Homo sapiens: one gene and its partner. The protein of the gene in region 2 interacts with the protein of the main gene of each other region in a pairwise test. Each region holds a gene or a part of one and is shown on either strand. Other genes may lie near its edges. The genes, in order: PANX1 and CFHR5.

Region 1 (10,745 bases), on a different chromosome or scaffold from region 2:
TTAGAATGCGGGAGGCAACTATTAGTAAGATTTCTCTCTGAAACAGGAAAGTCCGTTTTTGACTGAAAAAAACAATAAGAAAAACAAGAACAAAATTAGGAGAGTGGGCAAATCTTTATTTCTCTTAAGTAGACTCATAGAAACTTGGTTGGAGGAATCCTCTGAGGCTTTCAGACCAGAGGCTTCCAAACCTTAGCATTGCCAGAGTGGCCTTGTGAAAATTCAGGCTCCCGAGGCCATCTAGGCCATTAGGTTGGAGCTTCTGTGGTTAAGGTCAGGAATGTGGTTTTTATCGGCTTCCCAGGAGATTCTGATGTGAGCCCATCTTGCCGTACAATGTGGGCACCACCCATCTACACCATTTCTCAAATTCTCTGTGCATGCAGATCACCTGGGGATTTTGTTGAACTTTAGGCTCTGATTCAGCAGGTCTGATAGGGACCTGCAATTCTGCATTTATAACAGACTGCCAGGTGATAACTGAGGTTTGTGGTCTATGGACCACACCACTCTTTGAGAAGCAAGAATCCAGAGCCAGGGTTGGCAGACTAGGACACACATGCTTGAGCCAAATCAGTCCATACCTGTTTTTGTAAATAAAATTTTATTGGAACACAACTGTGCCCCATTTGTTCACACATTATCTGTGGCTGCTTTTGCACTATAATGGCAGAGTTGAGCAGCTGCAACAGAGACCATGTAGCTCTCAAACCTGTAATATTTACTCTCTGGCCCTTTACAAGAAAACCCTATGGACCCTTAATCTGGAATACTCAAGCTCTCCCAGATGATCACAAACTGTATTGAAAGGGAGCTCCTTGCCTCATAGGACAATTCATTGCATTTCATAGATCCGTGGGAAGGCTGCTCCTTGTCACTTGGTTCTACTTATCTTGGTAGGCATCTTTTCCTCCTTCTGTGAACAGATACTTTGCTCGCTGTCTTCTCCAGGGCTCTCCCCATGATGGGTTCCCTCCAGCTGCACTCCAGAATGTCACCCAGTGCAAACCACAGCACCTTTGGTGCTGAATAGAAGCCATGCCATCTGTATTTTCTGCCTTCTGTAAGCTTCTCAGGGAGTGCACATTAGCTTTCTGGGGTAGCTGTTCACTCTTGACTCCCGCTGTCTAGGATTGTCTGTAAGTGCGGTATTACCTGAACAGCATATAGCCAGAACAGACATCCTTCATGCATCTTTTTACTCCACTTCCCCAGTGCAGGATGTTCTTGGTTTACCTACTTCCTACTTTCTGACTGCTTTTCTCCATTTCTTCCAAGATTCTCTTTTTGCCTGACCCTTAAATGTTATAGGGTCTCAGGCCTGTTCGTGGTCTTCTGGTCTTCTCCTTCTGCCCATTCTCCTTGGATGATCTTAACCATACAGTTGGCTTTGACCACATATGTGCTGCCAAATCCTGAATTGTACAGCTAGATTCTTTTCCTTTATTTTCAGTTATCTACTACAGACCAGGGCGTTTTGACTGCAGGTATCTCATGTTCAAAATTTCTCATCTTCTCAGGTCTGCCTCCCACCTCACTCCCGTCTGCTCTGAATCTGGGACTCTTCATTTATTTCACCTGAAGGTTCCACCCCGTCATGCCCTTGCATGAGCTACACACCCGGCGTGATCCTCAGTTCTTCTCCTTTTCCGTCCCCCTCTTCTGTGTGGACACTGAAGTGTATGTCTCCCCCATCTGTTGCTCTCAGATCTGTCTTCTCTTCCTGCCTCTCTGCCACAGTGACCTCCTGCCTGGTCTCTCTCCTTCCCATGTGTTTCTTCTTTGCCTCTGTAGTGGTTTTCTGGAATATATTTGATTTTGCCCTCTACCAGTGGTACCCCATTGTGTATGGTGTGGGAATTTGTGGCCCTCTTAATTCAGTCTCTGCTTACACTTTTTGTGAGTTTCCTAGATCTGCTATAACAAATTACAACAGAAATGTATTTCCTCCTAGTTTTGGAGGCCAGAAGTCCACAATCAAGGTGTTGCCAGAATTGGCTCCTTTTGGTGCTTTCAGGGAGAGTCTGTGATGTGCTTTCTTCTAGTTCCTGGTGGCTGCTGGCAGTCCTCTGTGTTCCTAGGGTGGTAGATGCATCACTCCAGTCTCTACCTCTGTCATCACAGGCTTCTTCCTGTGTGTCTCTGTGTCTTCATTTGGCCTTCTGATAAGGACACAAGTCATTGGATTAGGACCCACCCTAATTTATCATGACCTTATCTTAATTTAACTAATTATATTTGCAAAGACCTATTTCCAAACAGTATCACACTCTGAGGTTCCAGGTGGTCATTAGTTAGGGTTGGGGGGCAGTATTCAAGCCAGCACACCCTTCCAGCCTCTGCTCTGTCTACTTCCTCACTCACAGGCTTGTTCATTTACCTTGGTGCTCTGGATGAGTGAGAATTCAACAGACAAACACGGAGGAAAGGATTCCAAGCAGAGGAAAGAGGATTCCAAAGGGCCACAGAGGTGACATTTGTGCTGAGTCTTAACATAAGGCTTTGTTTTATTTTATTGCCGCACTGTACTTTAAGACATAGTTCAGGTGTTACCTCTTTTATGAAGCTTCCCTGACCACCTCCCCAGGGACTTTTCTGTTCCCTCAGTGCTTAGTACCTACATGTTTTGATGATTTAATTATCAGCTTGTGTTCCCATCTGTCCTGTGTAATCTTGGGGCAGACTCTGTGCCTAGTCTGTGGGGGCCGTGCATCCAGCCCACTGCCTAGCACATAGCAGGTCCCCAGGAGATGTTTTTGAGTGAATTTACCCATCTGCACTTAATCCCCTAAGATGAGGTCACATGCATTTTAGGGGAGGAGTTGTTCAGTCCGAATTGGATGGTTCTTTGCCTTCGATGAGGTAGAGAGGATTTGAATATGGAGGGAAGTTGTACTGCTCACCCTCTAGGTTCCTTCCATCTGGAGGTTTCTGTTGTTTTAACTATAACCCATTCCAGAAACAGCACACATTTTTAAGGCAGATAGACTGAAAATTGTAGTTGGACAGCTGCTTGGTCCCACAATGATTTGAGAAGTTTCCCTATTCTTGGAAGAGCTCAATACTCACTCGAACATCATGCAGAATAGTGCCATCATGGCTTCAAGAGATGCTGAGCATCCCAGGCCTAATGTGGAGTTGACACAGCTTATGAACAAAGCTGTTTCCATCTGCAGATGCACCCTCAAAGCCCTGCAGCTTTTCCATATTTCTTATTTGAAATTAAAGACTGTAATTTTGTGTTATTTTGGATTCTTATTTCCTGTTTTACTACATTTTTATAGAATCACTGAAAGTTGCCTTTTTATTTTGGTGGGAAAAAAATAAAAAGAGGTTTTAGTGTGGAGAAAACCAAGAGATGTGGCATTAAATGATGTTATTATAGTGGTGATCAAGGTACAAGGCTATTTTAGGGAAATTTACACCCTATATGTAATTTGTTTTTCTAATTACAATGAGCTGTGCTGAACTATTCATTGTACCACTTATTGTACCAAATTATTGTACCACTTGGGCATGTTTAAAAATACCACAGACTGTAAATAGTCACTTTTTAATTCAAGGGAACAGTTCGAAGTGAAATGCCATTATTCAAATAGCTTTGAAACAAAAGTGACTTATACAGATGTTTCACAAGCCCATGTTAGAAAAAGTTTTCTCCCTGTGGTTCCCAGATAGAATGCCTGGCTTTCGTGGTTATGGAAGCAGCAGAAACTCTGTGTCATGCACTTATGTTTTTAAACTAATGGGCACCCTTCTGATTGGGCAAGAATTAAATGAACATTCCTTCTCCCCACAGCCAGCTATGAATTATGCAGCCAAAATTCAGCTAATCACAGCCTGCTTTGTGTGTCATTGTGTAGCAGCCCTTTGCAAATTGGGTTAATACTTTTGAAACACCTCATCCCGTGCCAGAATGCCAAAGTAAAGCAGCTGTCTTGGTAAGAGGGCTTTGCAAAGTTTTGGGGTCATTTGTGCTTATTTCTGTCTTGCGTCTGGGGCAGAGATTCCTTATGTGGGTCTGTGATAGTGACAGGAGGCCTGCAAACTAGGATAGGAAAATATATGACAGCTTTATTTTTTATTCACTTCCAAATAAAATTTAGCATTAAGAAAGTTTTTATGTAGGCAACAATCCATAGTGATATTAGCAGTACCTGTGAGTTTGTCACCCACAGAAAATCACAGATATCCTGGAATATCGTTTACTCTTCACTACTTCAAAGTTTCAATAGCTGTTAGATCATCTGCTAGATCCTAATTTAAGTATGAATAAAGAATTGGATGCAAAATATTAATATTTTGGTAACTGTATATCAGTGCTCTATTTCCTTTGTGAACCTATATATATATTATTTTATGCATTTAAAAACAAGGAAAGATTGAAGAACTGTCACAAAACCAAGGAGTCTAGGGAGACATGGCAACTAAATGCAGTGAGTACCCTGGATTGGATCTTGGAACAGGAAGAGGACAGTAGGGGAAAAACTACTACTGTACTTTACAAATAAAAGTCTGAAGTTTAGTTTCTGATAATGTGCCGATGTTGGCTTCTTAGTCTTAACAAATATATCACAGAAATATGAGTCATTAGCAATGGGGGAAACTGAGTGAGGGGCTTATGGGAATGCTCTGTACATCTGAAATTACAGTGAGGGCCATGTTGTGGGGGCTGCCGTCCACTCCCAGAAATGTTTTGAGGGGAGGGTTTCATGTCAACTTACGGCCATCATGGCCTCGTCCATTACAACTCTGAGAAATGGTGGAGATAGACCCATCCAAAAGTAAGGAGAAGTTTTCCAGAGGAGTAAAGTAATTGAGAGTGTGTTAGATTGGAAAAAGATGTCTCTGGGGTCAGAGAGGTTGGCAACATAGTCTGACTCTCACTTACCAGCTTTGTGATCTGGGGCCAGAAACTGCTCCCGGCTTTCTCTTCCCATTTGCAGAATGGAGCCATCTATAGAGTCCCTGCCAGGGTTGCTGTGAGGACTGAACATAACGTGTCCACCTAGCTAATCTTTTTGTGGTTACCTGGAGTGTTTGAGTGCCTGTTCTATGCCAGGCCCTTTGCTAAGCATTTTCCATCAATTATCTCCTTTAATCTTCATGACACCTCTATTCCATGACCATTTCATACATAAGGAAACTGAGGGTCAGAGACTTTGAAAACTAACCAGATGGATGGGCTAAATGCTGGGGACAGCGGGAGCCATTGCAGGTACCTGAGCAGGGTGAACTTGGCGGTTCCAAGAGTTAAGCCTCAGTAATGGTGTACAGGAGAGAATAGAGGCAGGGAGAGCCACTTGGTAAGCACAGAGTGAGGGTTCTAATTAGGGAACAGAAAGGAAAAGAAGCAGTTTTGTCCAAGAAGGCAAAGAGCAAACAAAAAGCAATACTCTTATGTCTTATTGCTGATTAGAAGATCACGCAAAAGGATAGTCGAAAGTGACATCAAGGGCCTAGACCAGGGTCAGCAAACTTCTGCAGAGGGCCAGATCATAAAGTTTTTTTGTCATTGCAGATCACATGGTCACTGTCGCAGCTACTTAGTTCTGCAGAGTAGACATGATTGCCCAAGGCCGCAATGCTGAGCTTCAATTCAGATCTGCACTGACTGCAATTTACGGTCTTCCTAAGTCTTCTGCTGAGGCTAAGCCACCTCTGACCAACTGGTGGTCCTGGTTACTGGGGTGCTCCTCACCCTCTCTGACGTGTGAATCCCCTCTTGTTTGGTGTGTGTCTGCACCCTGATGTGGATGCTCTCCTCTTGATTCCCTTGCCCGTTGTGGATGGCCTCTCTGAGCCCAAGTTTATCCAACTATACGATGAGGGTGTTGGACTGCCTTCAAAGTCTGTTCCACATTCATTCTGCATTCTGTGAATTCAACTGCTTATTTCAGCTGTCTTATTGGGATGATTACTGAATCACTGAAGTCGAAGCTTTTCTAATTTGTTTTGGGGGAAGTTACATGTTTCTTTGGCATTTTCCCAGATTCCAGAGTAGGGCAAAAATGGAGCCGTATGCCTTAGTTGCTTCTTAAAACCATAAAAGTTAACAAAAACCCAGCAGAAGCCTTCGTGATAGCTGCAGGTTTCTTAACTGGGATTTTGTTCAGGGAACGGGAGTAATTTTATTTTTTTATTTTCCTTCTGTGATTAGAACGTACACACCATGTGTCACCATGCAGTTGCTGATTACTTCAAATTAATACCTATGGAAGAAAAAAAAATAGGTAGTTACCTGTGACAGGTATTACCTGGACAGGGGAATTTAGCCATAAGAAGTAGTTATTAGGTAATGAGCCCAATTTCCACAATACACATTTGTCTCAAGATGTGAGAAAATGAGAGCATCACTTGGCGCCATAGGTTACTGCATGGGGGGTTTGTTAAGCCCATGATTTGTTCTCTTGTTTTTCAGTTTTTCCCCTACATCCTGCTGCTCTTTGCGATCCTCCTGTACCTGCCCCCGCTGTTCTGGCGTTTCGCAGCTGCTCCTCATATTTGCTCAGACTTGAAGTTTATCATGGAAGAACTTGACAAAGTTTACAACCGTGCAATTAAGGCTGCAAAGAGTGCGCGTGACCTTGACATGAGAGATGGAGCCTGCTCAGTTCCAGGTGTTACCGAGAACTTAGGGCAAAGGTAACTTAGCCCCAGCAGGCAGCTCATCGGGTTTTGTAGGACAAATTCTCTGCCCTTCTACTGCCAGTCTGGGCCCAGAGTTCTCATTGCTAGGAGGCGGGGCAGGAGTGGAAGCAGGGGGACGTCATGCACCTAGTGACAGCCTGTAGTATCCCGGGATGTCCACTCTCCCCAAATCTCACCGCGACCCATCCTACCCATTTGTTTATCCTTCTGTCAAGACTCATTCCCTTGATGAGTGAAACATTACATCTCATTTTAAAAATGCAGTTCTTGTAGGGGTAACAGATTGAGGTGCTATATGAAGCTTGCTTGCTTTGATCTATTTAACTCCTTAATGGAGACGCACAGAGGATTTCAAGGCAGCTGAGCAAGGGATGAGAGAGAAATGGGGAATGAGTAGGTCGTGGCTTGCCTTTTCACAACCTTCTTTTGGTTCTTGTTATTGAATAATTGGAATAATAATAAGAGCCATCATTTTTTGAATATTTAATATATCTCACACACCGTATTGAGTTATTTAAGTACATTATCTCCTTTAACCCTCAGAGCAACATTACTAGTGCATTTGTTAACCTCCTCCTCCACTTTTATTCTGGATAAAAATACTCTTCTGTAGCTGTAAGTGAGAGTCTGGGAACTGAACCATGCCCTTTAGACCCCATAGTTTTTGCCCATACCCCCTGAGTTGTCCCACCCCTTGCCTGTAAGAGGCGTATGCTTACACATATTTAGGATTTACCAGATGCCAGGCATCACTCTAAAAATTTCCAAATATTAACTCATTTAATTAACTAGGCCTTCTGTTAAATATTAAGGGGAAAAGCATTTTATTATTCCTTTTCTTCCTCCTCTTTTAAACGGATTTTATTTTTGACTACTGACGTTGTAGGTAAAGAAGTATGGGTGTTTGAAATTTTTAGTGTGACATTGTTGAATGTGTATCTGCCTTTAATATTTGATGGTCTTGATGAGTGCCTAAGTTATTTTTGTTTCCTTTATTTTTTAGTTTGTGGGAGGTATCTGAAAGCCACTTCAAGTACCCAATTGTGGAGCAGTACTTGAAGACAAAGAAAAATTCTAATAATTTAATCATCAAGTACATTAGCTGCCGCCTGCTGACACTCATCATTATACTGTTAGCGTGTATCTACCTGGGCTATTACTTCAGCCTCTCCTCACTCTCAGACGAGTTTGTGTGCAGCATCAAATCAGGGATCCTGAGAAACGACAGCACCGTGCCCGATCAGTTTCAGTGCAAACTCATTGCCGTGGGCATCTTCCAGTTGCTCAGTGTCATTAACCTTGTGGTTTATGTCCTGCTGGCTCCCGTGGTTGTCTACACGCTGTTTGTTCCATTCCGACAGAAGACAGATGTTCTCAAAGTGTACGAAATCCTCCCCACTTTTGATGTTCTGCATTTCAAATCTGAAGGGTACAACGATTTGAGCCTCTACAATCTCTTCTTGGAGGAAAATATAAGTGAGGTCAAGTCATACAAGTGTCTTAAGGTACTGGAGAATATTAAGAGCAGTGGTCAGGGGATCGACCCAATGCTACTCCTGACAAACCTTGGCATGATCAAGATGGATGTTGTTGATGGCAAAACTCCCATGTCTGCAGAGATGAGAGAGGAGCAGGGGAACCAGACGGCAGAGCTCCAAGGTAGGGTTTGCTTTTGGCAGAGGCTACGGGAGTCTACCGAGAGCCTTTGCAGCAGCCTTGTGGGAATATTGACAGTCTTTACCCTGCCCATCATTTAAACCATTTCCAAGCATTAAAAACCTTAATACCAAGGTGCGGGGTAGGGGGAGTGGGAACCCCTCAGTATAAGGAGAGAGAGGAAAAGAATTGGTGCTGCTCTACATTTCCAAAGAAGAATAACTTCTGTGCTTTTTCTGGTTTTTCCCTCTTCTCTGTCTGTCTCACACTCTCTCTTGCTCAGCAATCTTCCTTGTCTTTCTTGCTTATTTTTGTCTTATCTTACTGGCTTTCCTTTCTACCTCTGATCTCCTTCTCTGTTACTCTCTGACTTTCTCTTTCAAAGGGGACTAAAAGTTTATTGATTCTTTTAGTTAGGCCAAGAAGCAAAACATGGTATAGACTGTGAGAGGAATTTTTGGCAGAAGAAAAATTGATTAGTATTGGTAATTCCTGCTATGTTTCTGTCATAAATATTTGTTTTCAATTTTGACAGGTATGAACATAGACAGTGAAACTAAAGCAAATAATGGAGAGAAGAATGCCCGACAGAGACTTCTGGATTCTTCTTGCTGATGATTTTTTTCCTTGAGCTGTAAATCTGTGACTTCTGCGACATGGGATTTAATTTGGCTAAAGCACCCCTGTTGGTTTCACAGCTGGTTTGCAATAAATGGTTCTTGGTGGAGATACTGAGCATGTCTTATTGAGTCCCTAATGGAAATGGTGATCAACAAAAGGTTATGGAAGAATGGTTTATGAACTTCCCATAGGAAGCACCTGAGAGATAGTAAACTGCAGCAAGTAACTATGTGTAAGTCCTCATCAAATGAAAAGCAGAAAGACAAGAACAATTAGTCAAGAGCAGTAGCCCTGTCAGAGCCTCGGAGCAATACCTTTCTGTACCCGTGGTGAGACAAGACCCAGAGCTACTGGAAAACAAGCACTTTGGAAGATTTGTTTTGTTTTCATGGAATAATAATATGTCAGGGTATAATTTAACGTGAGTTTCTTATGTGCCCTTAAAGACTGTTAGACAAGAAAAGCATTCACTGGCTAATAATCCATAGGTCGACCTATGTCCTAAGTTAGGTGTAAGGTCCGATGCCTTGGCCCACACTCGAGCTCTCTTTACATTGTTAGTTGTCAACCTTGGCTGATGGAAATCCCGTAACCACTATTTGTTGCACTGTGCCTTGAAGGGCAGCAGGCCCAAGTGCTGCTCTGACTGAAAACTGAGTTAACAAGATGAAATCTAAAGGATATTCACAGTGACTTCAATTCAGGAAGAATGCTTCCAAAAGAGCCCAGTGGGGAAATCTGACATCACAGAAGACATTAATTCAGTCACTTTCAAAGAGTTTGTCTACAGGCGGTTTCTCTGTTATCAAAGGCATTTGAAATAGGATTTTACTTAAACAATAATGGAACACAGGAGTATTTAAAGTGAAGAACACTTTGCCTGAATGTGATCAGGGCACATAAGTGACATTGGCATGCTTCATATGGCGTGCTTGGAGCCAGAAAAACTTAGCGGTTTATTTTGTTTATATTTAAGCACAGCTTTAAAAAATTCATTATCGTTTATTCAGTGTCCGAATTGAGGCCATTTGGGAAGAAAATTCTAGCACTGGTGGAGAATTATAGAATAAAGATTATAAATGGTTGGATAAGACAAATGTAAGCTTATTTCATAAACATTTAAAGCTGATTCAGAACATGTTAAAAACTGTTCCCAATTCCAACTATGTAAATAGATCCTATGTTCACATTTTACACACACACACAAAAATCTTTAACATCTGTGGAACTTCCCAGTTTTAGTCTTAGAAAGTTAGCATGTTGCATAAGTTCAGTAATCCTCAGGAACCTCCAAGTTTACTTTTAGCTCTTACGGACAGTTGTTTACATAATCTAATTACTGTTTTCTGAAGAACGGAAATTATATAAGCTGCTGTCTGCCTTTTGGAATATTCAGAAAAGCAGATTTTATTTGTACTTCTGTGATGTTTTCTGAAATGGAAAGCTGATGATAAATATCAAAGTAGCAATCAGTGCGTTAAATTATTCTGTTACATGATATTTATTACTGTTGAATTATTCTGTGACTTAGAAATGGCAGTAACCTAAATAATGGAATTTGCAAAATTATTATATTGCCGTATCTGAGATGTTCCATCACAAGTTTCTACACTGGTTTCTTTTGAAAATTTAAAAAGATTTACGAGATACATTTTCTAGGATATGATTTTTTTTTTACAAAAAGCTTCATCTTCTGTAGACTATCCTTAATTTCTATTTTGAAACGGTAAAAATTGATATTTTAGGACACCAGGAAGTCTCCAAGCCATTCCCACTCTCTGAACTCCAGTAGGGTCTGTGATGTCCCAGGCACCAGT
Region 2 (11,107 bases):
CAATATCCTCACACAACAATTTAAGAATGAAGGCAGACTGTAAGAGTAGCAAATCTCCCTGGTCTATGTAGTGTACAGTAGAGGAGTGATAGGATTGTTCTCAGCTCTCAGATTTATTTCTTTTTCTATTCTCATCAACTGTCATAGGTATTTCCACCAGAAAAATCTGTCCTATTTTTTTTTCTGGTGCAGTAAAAATGTTGGGTAGGTAATTTGATTTTTTGTTTATTAATATTCTGATTACTTTCTGGTTACAAAGTTTATGTGGTTTCAGTGGAAATAATTTAAAGAGTATAAGAAAATCACTAAGAACAACTCAACCGAGATAAAATTAGAGCTAAATTCTGGTAAATGCTGTATACATAAATGTTTATTATACTGCAAGTCCAAAATATCTGAAAAAGAAAAAACAATAAAAAGATAATAAAACAATAAAAACAATGCAATTAAAAATACAATATAACAATTATTTATATAGTATTTACATTATGTTAGATATTATAAATAATCTAGAGATGATTTAAATTATATGAGAGGATGTGCATATGTTATATGCAAATACTACGCCATTCTCTCTTAGAGACTTGAGCATCTGTGGATTTTGGTATCTGCTGGGGGTGAAAAGAGTCCTGGAACAATTCCTTAAGGATACTAATGATACTGAGGATACTACTGGATATATTTATATAGACACTCACACATACATCCATATGCACTATGGTGCAAGATATGGTAAAACAATGTAGAAAATGGGTGAAATATTCATGTTTTGACTCTATTTTTTCTTGTGTATATATATATTTATATATACACATATTTTTTATTAGACTTAATTTTTTATTTACAGTTTTTTTACTGTAAAATTGAGTGGAAGGTACAGAGATTTCCTATATACCACTTCCTCTTCCCTGCCACATGAATAGCCCCCTTCACTATCAGTATTATTGTCATTAAAGCCCATAGTTTACATTAGGGTTTACTCTTGATATTGTACATTCTATGGATTTGATGTACTTTATCTTTGAATGCTGTTTTAGCTCGAGATATTTCCTCAATATAGTGTGCTCATTTTTTAGCTCAAGATATTTCCTGAATATAGCATTGCTGCATAAGAAATTGTTTTGTTTTTCACCTTATTTAGAAAAAGCATGCAGAAATTCAGCTGACAAATCAAGGGAAATTTCTCTTTTTTAACTACCTAGAAGTAATATTTAATGTTGCACAATATTTGAAATAATTCTTGTGGTATTTAACCTTGTGAAACCTTAAATTTATTACCTAACTGTTTAAAAATTGACATTAGATAGTTTTGGAGAAGATACTGAGGGAAAGACTCCCTCGTGTCTTGATAGTATTAACCTATCATAACTCCTTTTAAATATCATTTACTTTTTGAAAATTGCAAAATTATAGTACTTGATTTTCATGCATATGTACTTACATATTCTTCGCTATCCAGAATAACTTAGTTCTCACCATCCAGTTGTATTCTACCTATCCTTTAGAACTTGCTCTACAACATTCATCGTATAACCATTGTGCACATCCGCAATGGTGCTAGGAGTGTTATCGTCCTTTGGCAAGCCTGCCGTTACACAACAACCCACTCCAAAAGCAGAAAATAATTTTCCTTGTCTCGACATTCTGATAGAATACTGTGAATATATTTCTTCTGGGATACACACACACACACACACACACACACACACACACACACGTATATATACAGACATACAGTCATTTACCACATAATGACGTTTTGGTCAATGACTGATCACTTATATCACAGTGGTCCCATAAGATTATAATGTAGCTGAAAAATTCCTATCAACTGATGACCACCACAACATCATAATCCAATGTATTACTCACATGTTTGTGGCAGTGCTGGTATAAACAAACTTACAGCATTGCCAGTCATATAAACAATAGCACACACAATTATGTATAGTACACAATACTTGATAATGATAATAAATGACCATGGTACTGGTTAATGTATTTAATGTACTATAGTTGTTATCATTATTTTATAGTTCACTTCTTCTACTTATTAAAAAAAAATAACTGTAAAACATCCTCAGGCGGGTCCTTCAGGAACTATTCCAGAAGAAGGCTTTGTTATCATAGGAGAGGACAGCTCCATGCATGTTACTGCCCTAAAGACCTTCTAGTGGAACAAGAGTGAGGAGGAAGACAGTGATACTGATGATCCTGACCCTCCGTAGGCCGAGGTTAATGTGTGTGTTTGTGTCTGCTTTTAACAAAAAGGTGTAGAAGGTAAATAAATAAATAATTTAAAAGATAAAAATCTTACAGAATAAGGATAGAAAGAAAAAATATTTTGTACATCTATACAAGGTGTGTTTTAAGCTAAAACAAAAGAGTTACAAGTTAAAAGATTTTCAGTTGATAAAGTAGAAAGCTTATCATAAATTAATTTATTATTGAAGAAAAGTTTTAAAAATAAATTTAGTCTATCCTGGGTGCACCAGAAGCTCAGTAATTAGCACTAAAGAACTTATCCATGTAACCAAAAACCACCTGCTCCCCCCAAAATATTGAAATAAATATATAAATAAAATAAATTTACCTAGCTCAAGTATTCAGTGTTCATGAAGTTTACAGTAGTGTATGGTAATGTGCTAAGCCTTCATATTTGCACACCACTCACTCAGTGACTTACCCAGAACAACTTTCAGTCCTGCAAACCCTATTGACGGTAAGAGCCCTATACAAGTCTGCCATTCTTAATATTTTATATTGTATTTTTATTGTACCTTTTATATGTTTAGGTAAACACATTCTTACATTTGTGCTACAGTTGCCCACAGTATTCAGTACAGTAACATGCTGTACAGGTTTGCAGTCTAGGAGTGACAGGCCGTATAGCTTAGTTAGGTAGTAGGCTATACAATCTAGGTTTGTGTAAGTACACTCTATGATGTTTGCAGGAGGACGAAATTGCCTATAGACACACTTCTCAGAACGTTTTCCTATCATTAAGTGATGTATGAGTGTACACACACACACACACACACACACACACACAGACAATTACCTATATATAAAACCTTGCAATTTATTTGCCTATTTACATTTTGCTTTTCTTTTAGGACACTCTAAGTAGTAGTGAGGGGTGGGTGGCGTTGTCATATTCTTTCCAGCTTCTTTGCTACAGCATGAAGCACAATATATTGCTTGATTCATGTTTTGCTACTGGAAGCATGCAGTTTTCTATTTGTACAAAAGTGTTGCTTTCGTCTGTTATTTCTGCTGTTTGGCCAGTTTCTAAATAGACACCAAAACAAAAGTGTAATGCACACTTACAGGTCATTTAACACCTAGACAACTTTTAATAGAATTTCACTAAAGTTTATCCTGGGACTGGACTGAAGCTTGAAAGTTTTGTGGGGTTAGGAATTGTCAAAATTCTACATATTATCCTCATAATTTTCACTTATCTTCCTCTGCTTCCACCCCCCTTTAGAAATCCTTGTGTAATGCCATTTGTAACAGATGTTTAAGCCACTTAATAAATATCATAAACACAGACTTAAGAAAAATCAAATACACTCATGCAATCGCACTCTTGTGATTATAGCTCAGTACTAAAAGTGAAAACAAAATAAAATGAATTTTAGGCCCATAGAAATAATGTTTTGCAACATTTGTAAGGGCATATCTTAAAAAGAAAGCATTTTATGGTTCATATTTTTCTCTTATGTCAGGACTGAGAAGAAAGTGTTCAAAAAATTTAAAGATCTGTAAACATTAGAAAGCAGTAAAGCAGTAAAATAAAAACTTTCTGGAAATCAAAGAGTATATAGCACAATGATTGAAACTTCACGTACACACATAGTTTAATCAGTATCCTAGACCTTGTTAGAGATTTTGTTTGCAATCCTTTTGATATAGTGGCTTTAATTTCCACATGAAATAAAATGGGATAGTTTATAATGTTATAAGAATCAGTTTATAGTATTAATAAAGAAGTGATATATTATTTCACTTTTGAAATTTGTGGAAGAGCTCAGAAGAAACAATTTTTTGGCAGTTCACTGGTTTATATATAAAAATAATATTTTCTATTGTTTCATTAAAATATATTTCCCTGTTGAATGATAATTAGGCTGAAATGAGAATTCCTTCATTTTAATAACATTTAAAATGTAAATTATCAAATCTATGAAAATAAAATTCTCAAAACATAATGAAGGTGGCCAAATCTTTTGGGGTTGATTTTTCTAGTCAGTGGCATTGCAGAGTTTATGCAGAATTACACTAATATTTCACCTTGTCATCTTTATTATAGCAGATTTTCTCTCCTTTGATTTCTCTTTACATTATCTATTTGGTGACCATTTACCCTTAGCAAACTAGAGAACGGAGAGAATTAATTTCATTCAATTTTCCTGCTAATTGCATGTTGGAAAATATTTCCAGAAAATAGATGAATATTGTGATACCCCTTCAAATTATCCTCAGCTATTTATTCATTTAAAAATATTTGTATGCATACACACACACAATCAATAAATACATTTGAAAAGGAACTAAAATATTCGGATCTGTTTTCAACTTACCTTCTCCCCCAACAGTGGATACCCATGAGATTAGGATTACACTGAATAAGAGCAACATGCTTGGTAGTCTCAATCGTATATAACTAAAAATACTCCAGTGATGGTGGTGTTGCTTTAAATCTGCTTTCATTAACAGTTACAAGCATGACTTTGAATTTCAATGTACTAAGGGGAAGCTAGTTTAGTAAAGCCCTTTGTGGAAAACATCAAAGTTCATGGAGGGTTGTGTGAAATAAGCAAATAGTATCTAATCAGTGTCTTCACAATAATATTCTCAGCTCGTTATGTAATATTTATTTAAGCAAAATAACTGCTGTTCAATTTCCTTGTTGTAGTCACCGAGTCTCTGAGTTTGGAACAATCAGAAATGGACTGTTTAGAGGAGAGAGGAAGCTCCCCACCGCCGGCCCCCTGGGTTTTTTTTTTTTTTCTAGCCAAGGGTTCAGCTGTTTCAAAAGGCAAGCAAGTGCAAGTCATCAGTCCTCATCTTAATACAACAATATCACTTTTGTAGTTGTAAATTCCCTTTTAAAACTGGCACTAAGAATTAGGTACCTTCTTAACAGTTTTAATATTTCATAAACTATAAAAGGTCTAATCAAGAATTATTTTTGCTGGCCGGGCGCAATGGCTCAAGCCTGTAATCCCAGCACTTTGGGAGGCCGAGGCGGGTGGATCACAAGGTCAGGAGATCGAGACCATCCTGGCTAACACGGTGAAACCCGTCTCTACTGAAAAATACAAAAAAAATTTAGCCAGGCGTGGTGGCGGGCGCCTGTAGTCCCAGCTACTCGGGAGGCTGAGGCAGGAGAATGGCGTAAAACCGGGAGGCAGAGCTTGCCGTGAGTGGAGATCGCGCCACTGCACTCCAGCCTGGGCGACAGAGCGAGACTCTGTCTCAAAAAAAAAAAAAAAAAAAAAAAGAATAATTTTTGCCAAGTAACGTTTCCTGAAATGTTTGAAGAACAGAATTATAATTCAAAATCATTTTGTTCAGGTGGGACTTCGAGAATGGCTATGTGAGGGTCTTGGTATATTCACTCCCAACCAAAAGGCAGCAATAAAACTGGATAAAAATTTAAAAGTAACCATTGGTTGTCTCTGGAAATTGGCCAAACAGCATAATGTTGGGAAATATTTTTTCCAGAAAGTCTCCATAAAATTCAGTAAAAGAGAGCGGATGCTTTCATCCACCTCTGTCTCGCAGCCCAATTCCGTGGCTCAGAAGTTGAACCCTGGATGGGCAGGCAGGCTATGTGGACTGGAAGCTCTGCTCCCCTGCTGGAGAAGAGTGACTTTATAGCTTGGAAAGGTCCATGCCCGAGGATCCTATTGAATACAAAGAGATTACAGTGGGAAACAATCAGAGAAGACTAGAGGATACTAGCTGAAGCAAGCAACAAAGTGCCCAGCCTGAGAGAAATTTAACATTTAATGGGGAAATTTACAGAAACAGCCTAATGATCTCACTAAGAGGAAACTTACTTATGGTGGTTCAGAAGTCAATGGGAATGCACATAGCTATGTCCAATCAAGAAACCAGAGAAGTCCCTGTGAGCTATTAGTAGTCTCCACTATTGATTCTAGTCTATCTAAACCTTGTCATTTCCAATTACTACACTACCTAAAGTATCTAAATATTAAGCATCACACTCTAGACCATTTCAACAATCTTTTTAGCTCACTTACTCTACTAAATTTGTTCCAAACATTCAATGACCCTGACACTTTTTCACTATTCTCTTCCCTTCATTTTCTCTCTTCCCACCACATCTAAATTAGATTCCATGGCTCATCACTGTCAGTCAGTCCCTTGCACACACTCTCCTGCCCATTCGTTCCTTTCTATCTGTAATCCAAGTCTTAGAAAACCTCAATCCTTTGCAAATAAATTCTCTACCTGCCCTGTGCCTGAATTGAAGCAGCAGAGTGTGTCTACAAGAAAAACAAAGGCAACTGTGCTGACTTGCCTTGCTTTAAATTAATGAACACGGTCCTAAATAATTTCCACACTGCTTTTCCCCTCTCCTGTTTTCATTATCTCCCTCCTTAACCACCAATCCTCACTTTGTGCTTTGCTAATGACTTCATTTATTTTTTCATCTAGATATAGAATCAATCAGAAGAAAACTACCTGCTGTTCACACGCATCCTTTTCTGCATTGTCTCTTGCTTCACTGGATGTTGATCTTTACTCCTATCTTGTTATGGTCTCTACCAGATTTGATCCCATCTTTTCTGTGCAAGGATTTTGCTCTTTCAATTATTCCTTCTCACCTGTATCATTAATTTCTCCATTTTCCAAATTATTTCCACCAATATGCAAACATACCAAACATCTTTCATCATGAAGAGCAACAACAAAAGCTCAAAAATTGTTCATAGAACCCAAATCTCTTTCTAGTAATCTAATTCACTTCTCATTTTATAATACGATGACTCCAATGTTATCTACAATCTCTACTTTAATTCATTTTTTCATTCCCAACACTACGCTTAAACCCCTCTTGTAACAGTCACCAATGCCTTCTTCAATCTAATCAAATCCATTGGTCAAAACTGAATACTCAGAAAAATTTCATGACTTTCCCCTTCCATTTGGAAATACCTGCTTCACATGGTCTATGGAACACCACATTCTCCTGGTTTCTCTTCTGTCTCAAAGGCTTCACCATCTCAGTCTTTTGTTGGCTTCTTCTAATCTCTGTGACCTTTAAACATTGGTTTGTCTGAATCCAGGGGATGTTATTTATTTGTAAGCACAGAGTTAATTTTCACAGAGCTAGTGCCGATTTTTAGTTGAATTAACACTATCTTCTCTTGTCTATTTTTTTTGAAGCCCAGTACTCAACAATTATTCTCCTTTTTATTTGCTGAATATTTCTCCTAATTCAGAAACTTAGATTGCCCTTTTTTGTTTGTTTCTTGTTCTGAGTAATTTCAGGAGATTATGCCCTCCTGCAAACATTAGCAACAAATAAAAGGAGAAGGAAACTATACTTGATAAGAAATAAAAGGGCAGTTTAGAAAATAACTTTGTCTTCAATTTTGTGGCCAATTTTATTTTGAAAGATGCTCACTCCACTGTGTCTCATCTCACTTGTTCTTCTGCCATGTGATTTTGCCATGATCCTATCAAGATTTGGAATCACATTTCCCTCATTTTGAAAATCTGTACTTTTTAGTGGCATGCTTTTGTTGATACAATACAGTGGTAGTGACTCTGCTAGATATTAGAGAGTTATGGGTTTATATTTTGGAAGACTATCTCTCTGACACTATCTTGGAAGCCTTTTGCCATTTGGCAAGAAGTTCAATCTGTATGCAGAAGCCATATGTAAATCTTCTGGTTGATAGTCCCAGTTGGCCCAGGCAATAGCCCAGGTGTCATACAGGTGAGTGACATTTGCAGATTCCAAATCTCAGTTATTTGAGTCCTAACCCATTTAAATCTTTTCACCTGAGGCTCAAATATTGTGGAACAGTTATAAGTCATCACCTCAGTGCCCTGCGTCAATTCCTAACAGTATCTTTAAGTATAATAAAATGATTGCTGTTTTATGCCAATAAGTTTCTTACACAGCATTATAAATCTAGGAAACTGGGACCTCTTTTTTTTGTGGATTCCAGGTTTAGTGCAGGGAAAGTAAATTAAGTCTGAAACTGTTTGTTGTTACAAAAAATATGAAAGGGTTAAAAGGCAAATTATAGCATTCAAATACATATGAAACTGGCTTGTAGAAGTTATTACTGATAAAATTTGAGATAGATTTAAGTATCTCAAAGAAAAATTGCTGAAATTGGTTATAACTCTTGAATATTGAAAATTCTCTTCCCCAAAAGTGCTATAAAAGTAAAACATCCCAGCCTATATAATCCAAATAATTTTTGTTTTGAAATAATCTTAGATTCATATAATAAGTCATAAAAATAGTACAGAGAATGCCCATGTACCCTTTACCCAGTTTCCTCCAATAACTATAACTTCCTGCATCTCTTATATCTATAGTACAATAATTGAGACCAGGAAATTGACATTAGTGCTCTACTACTAACTCAGCTACCAACCTTACTGAATTTCATGGTCTCTCCCATGAACTTGCGTTTGTGTTTGTGTGGTATATTAATTTTGCAACATGTATGCACTCATGTAACCATCACCACAATCAGTCATATGTAGAACTACTCAGTCGTATACAGAACTATTCTATCACCTCCAGAAAACTCCCGTGTGCTGTCCTTTTATGGTCCCCACATTCCCCCACCCCTCATTGCTAGTCATCACTAGTATGTTCTACATAACTGTAATTTAGTCATTTTGAGTGTTATATAAATTGGATTATACAGTAAGTCAACTTTTTGATTTGGATATTTTTCACACAGGGTAATGTCCTTGAAATGTAGCCAAGCTGTTGTATTATAAGTAATTCATTTCTTTTAATTGCTGTGAAGTACTCCATTGTATGGATGTAACATGTTTGTTTATTCTTTCGCTCATCTGAGGACATTTGAGTTGCTTCTACTTTTTGGCTATTACACATAAAGCTATGATGGACAATTTTGTGCAATGTTTTACTTGAACAGCAAACTTGTTCTCGAAGGGTCATATGTTTAGTATTTTAAGGTTGTGAACCATATGGCCTCTGCCACAACTACCTAACTTTGTAGTTATAGAGCCAAAATAATGATAGACAATACATAAATAAAAAGGTGTGGCTCACATCCAATACATCTTTATTAAGAAAATAGATAGCTAGTTCCTAAGATATAGTTTGCCATCTCCTGCCCTATGGTAAACAGTCAGGGGTGAGATTACTGGGTTTTATGAAAAGTGCTATTGAACTCTATAAGAAATTGTCTGTTTTCCATAGTGGCTATGACATTTTACATTTCCACAAGCAATGTATGAGAGATCCATTGTATTGCATTTTCACTTGCACTTACTATTACCAATGTGTTTCATTTAATTTTTTTAAAGCATTTTATTAGATACATAGTAAATCTCATTGTGGTTTTAATGTGTATTCCCTAATGGTTAATGACATTGAATAACTTTTCACATGTTTATTTTCCATCTGAATATCTTTTTTGTTAGATCTGTTCAAGGCTTTGGCACCTTTATTGATTGGATTGTTTTACCTGTGTTTAGAGCATTCTTTATATATTCCATGTATAAGTCCTCTGTCAGATACGTTATTTGCAAATATTTTTTGCTAATAAGTAGCTTATCTTTTCACTCTCATAGAATGTCTTTCATGGATAAAAAGTGTTTAATGTTGATAAAGTATTATTATTATTTCACTCTTTTATGGGTCATCCTTTAGGTGTCCTGTTTAAGAACAATTCCATCAAACCCCAGATCACAAAGATTTTCTCTTCCTCTACAAGTTTGATTGTTTTACATTATGCATTTAGATATAGGAACCATTTGGAGTTAGGTTTTGTAAAATATGTGAGATTAAATCAAAATTAATTTTTTGGCTAAGAAAGTGCTAGTCCCCAACACAATTTGTTGAAAAGAAACTTTTCTCAACCACATGCCACACATTCTCACTTCTAAGTATGAGCTCAATCATGAGAAAACATGAACACATAGAGGGGAACAACACACACTGGGGCCTAATGGACGGTGAAGGGTGGGAAGAGGGAAAGGAATAGGAAAAATAACTAATGGCTACCAGGCTGAATACCTGGGTGACAGAATACTCTGTAAAACTAACTCCCATGAAACAAGTTTACCTATGTAACAAACCTGCACAGGTAGCCCTGAACTAAAAAAAAAAAAAGGATCTTTTCTGTATTGAATTATTTGTGCATCTTTGTTAAAAGTTACTTGAGCATATTTGTGTGGGTCTATTTCTGGATTCTGTATCTGTTCTATTGATTTATGTCTATCCCTCCATCAATACTATATTGTTTCTAATATGGTAGCTATATTTTGAGGCCTCAAATTTGATTTTTGTGATCCTTTCAACTTTATTATTTTAAAAAAATGTTTCAGCCATTCTAACTCCTGTGCATTTTAATATAAATTTAGTATGGAATGATCTATATTTACAAAGAATTCTGTTGAAATTTTAATAAGTAATTATGTTAAGCCTATAGTACAATTTGAGAAAAATTTATTTATTTATCCTGTTGAGTATTCTAGCCCAAGAACATGGTATTGCTCTCTATTTAATTCTTCCTTGATTTTCCTAGGGAATACTTCTTTTCATATTGACAAAAATACATATTAGAAAATAGGTATCAACTATCAAGGCTTTTGTCCATTTTAGAAATAATACAAATATTTCTATGAATAGAAATATTATATTTATTTGTTTTTTCTCCCAAGAGAAATTTGTGGATATGCAGAAATAAAACAAGGACAATTATATGACCTTTTCTGGATTCTGTATCTGTTCTATTGATTTATGTCTATCCCTCCATCAATACTATACTGTTTTTAATATGGTAGCTATATTTTGAGGCCTCAAATTTGATTTGTGTGATCCTTTCAACTTTATTATTTTAAAAAA

The links.
Region 1: the proteins of CFHR5 (region 2) and PANX1 interact in binary tests that used the Homo sapiens proteins (3 or more experiments, as listed by UniProt).

Annotation. Positions count from the first base shown.
Region 1 is NC_000011.10:94,171,948-94,182,692, forward strand, and holds the end of PANX1 (pannexin-1), read left to right. Parts: intron 1-2,366; exon of another isoform or gene 2,367-2,470; intron 2,471-3,799; exon of another isoform or gene 3,800-3,941; intron 3,942-6,421; coding exon 6,422-6,645; intron 6,646-7,654; coding exon 7,655-8,310; intron 8,311-8,842; coding exon 8,843-8,922; 3' UTR 8,923-10,021; downstream 10,022-10,745. UniProt on the Homo sapiens protein: Ion channel involved in a variety of physiological functions such as blood pressure regulation, apoptotic cell clearance and oogenesis.
Region 2 is NC_000001.11:196,971,202-196,982,308, reverse strand, and holds the start of CFHR5 (complement factor H-related protein 5 precursor), read right to left. Parts: upstream 4,754-11,107; 5' UTR 4,645-4,753; coding exon 4,587-4,644; intron 1-4,586. UniProt on the Homo sapiens protein: Involved in complement regulation. The dimerized forms have avidity for tissue-bound complement fragments and efficiently compete with the physiological complement inhibitor CFH.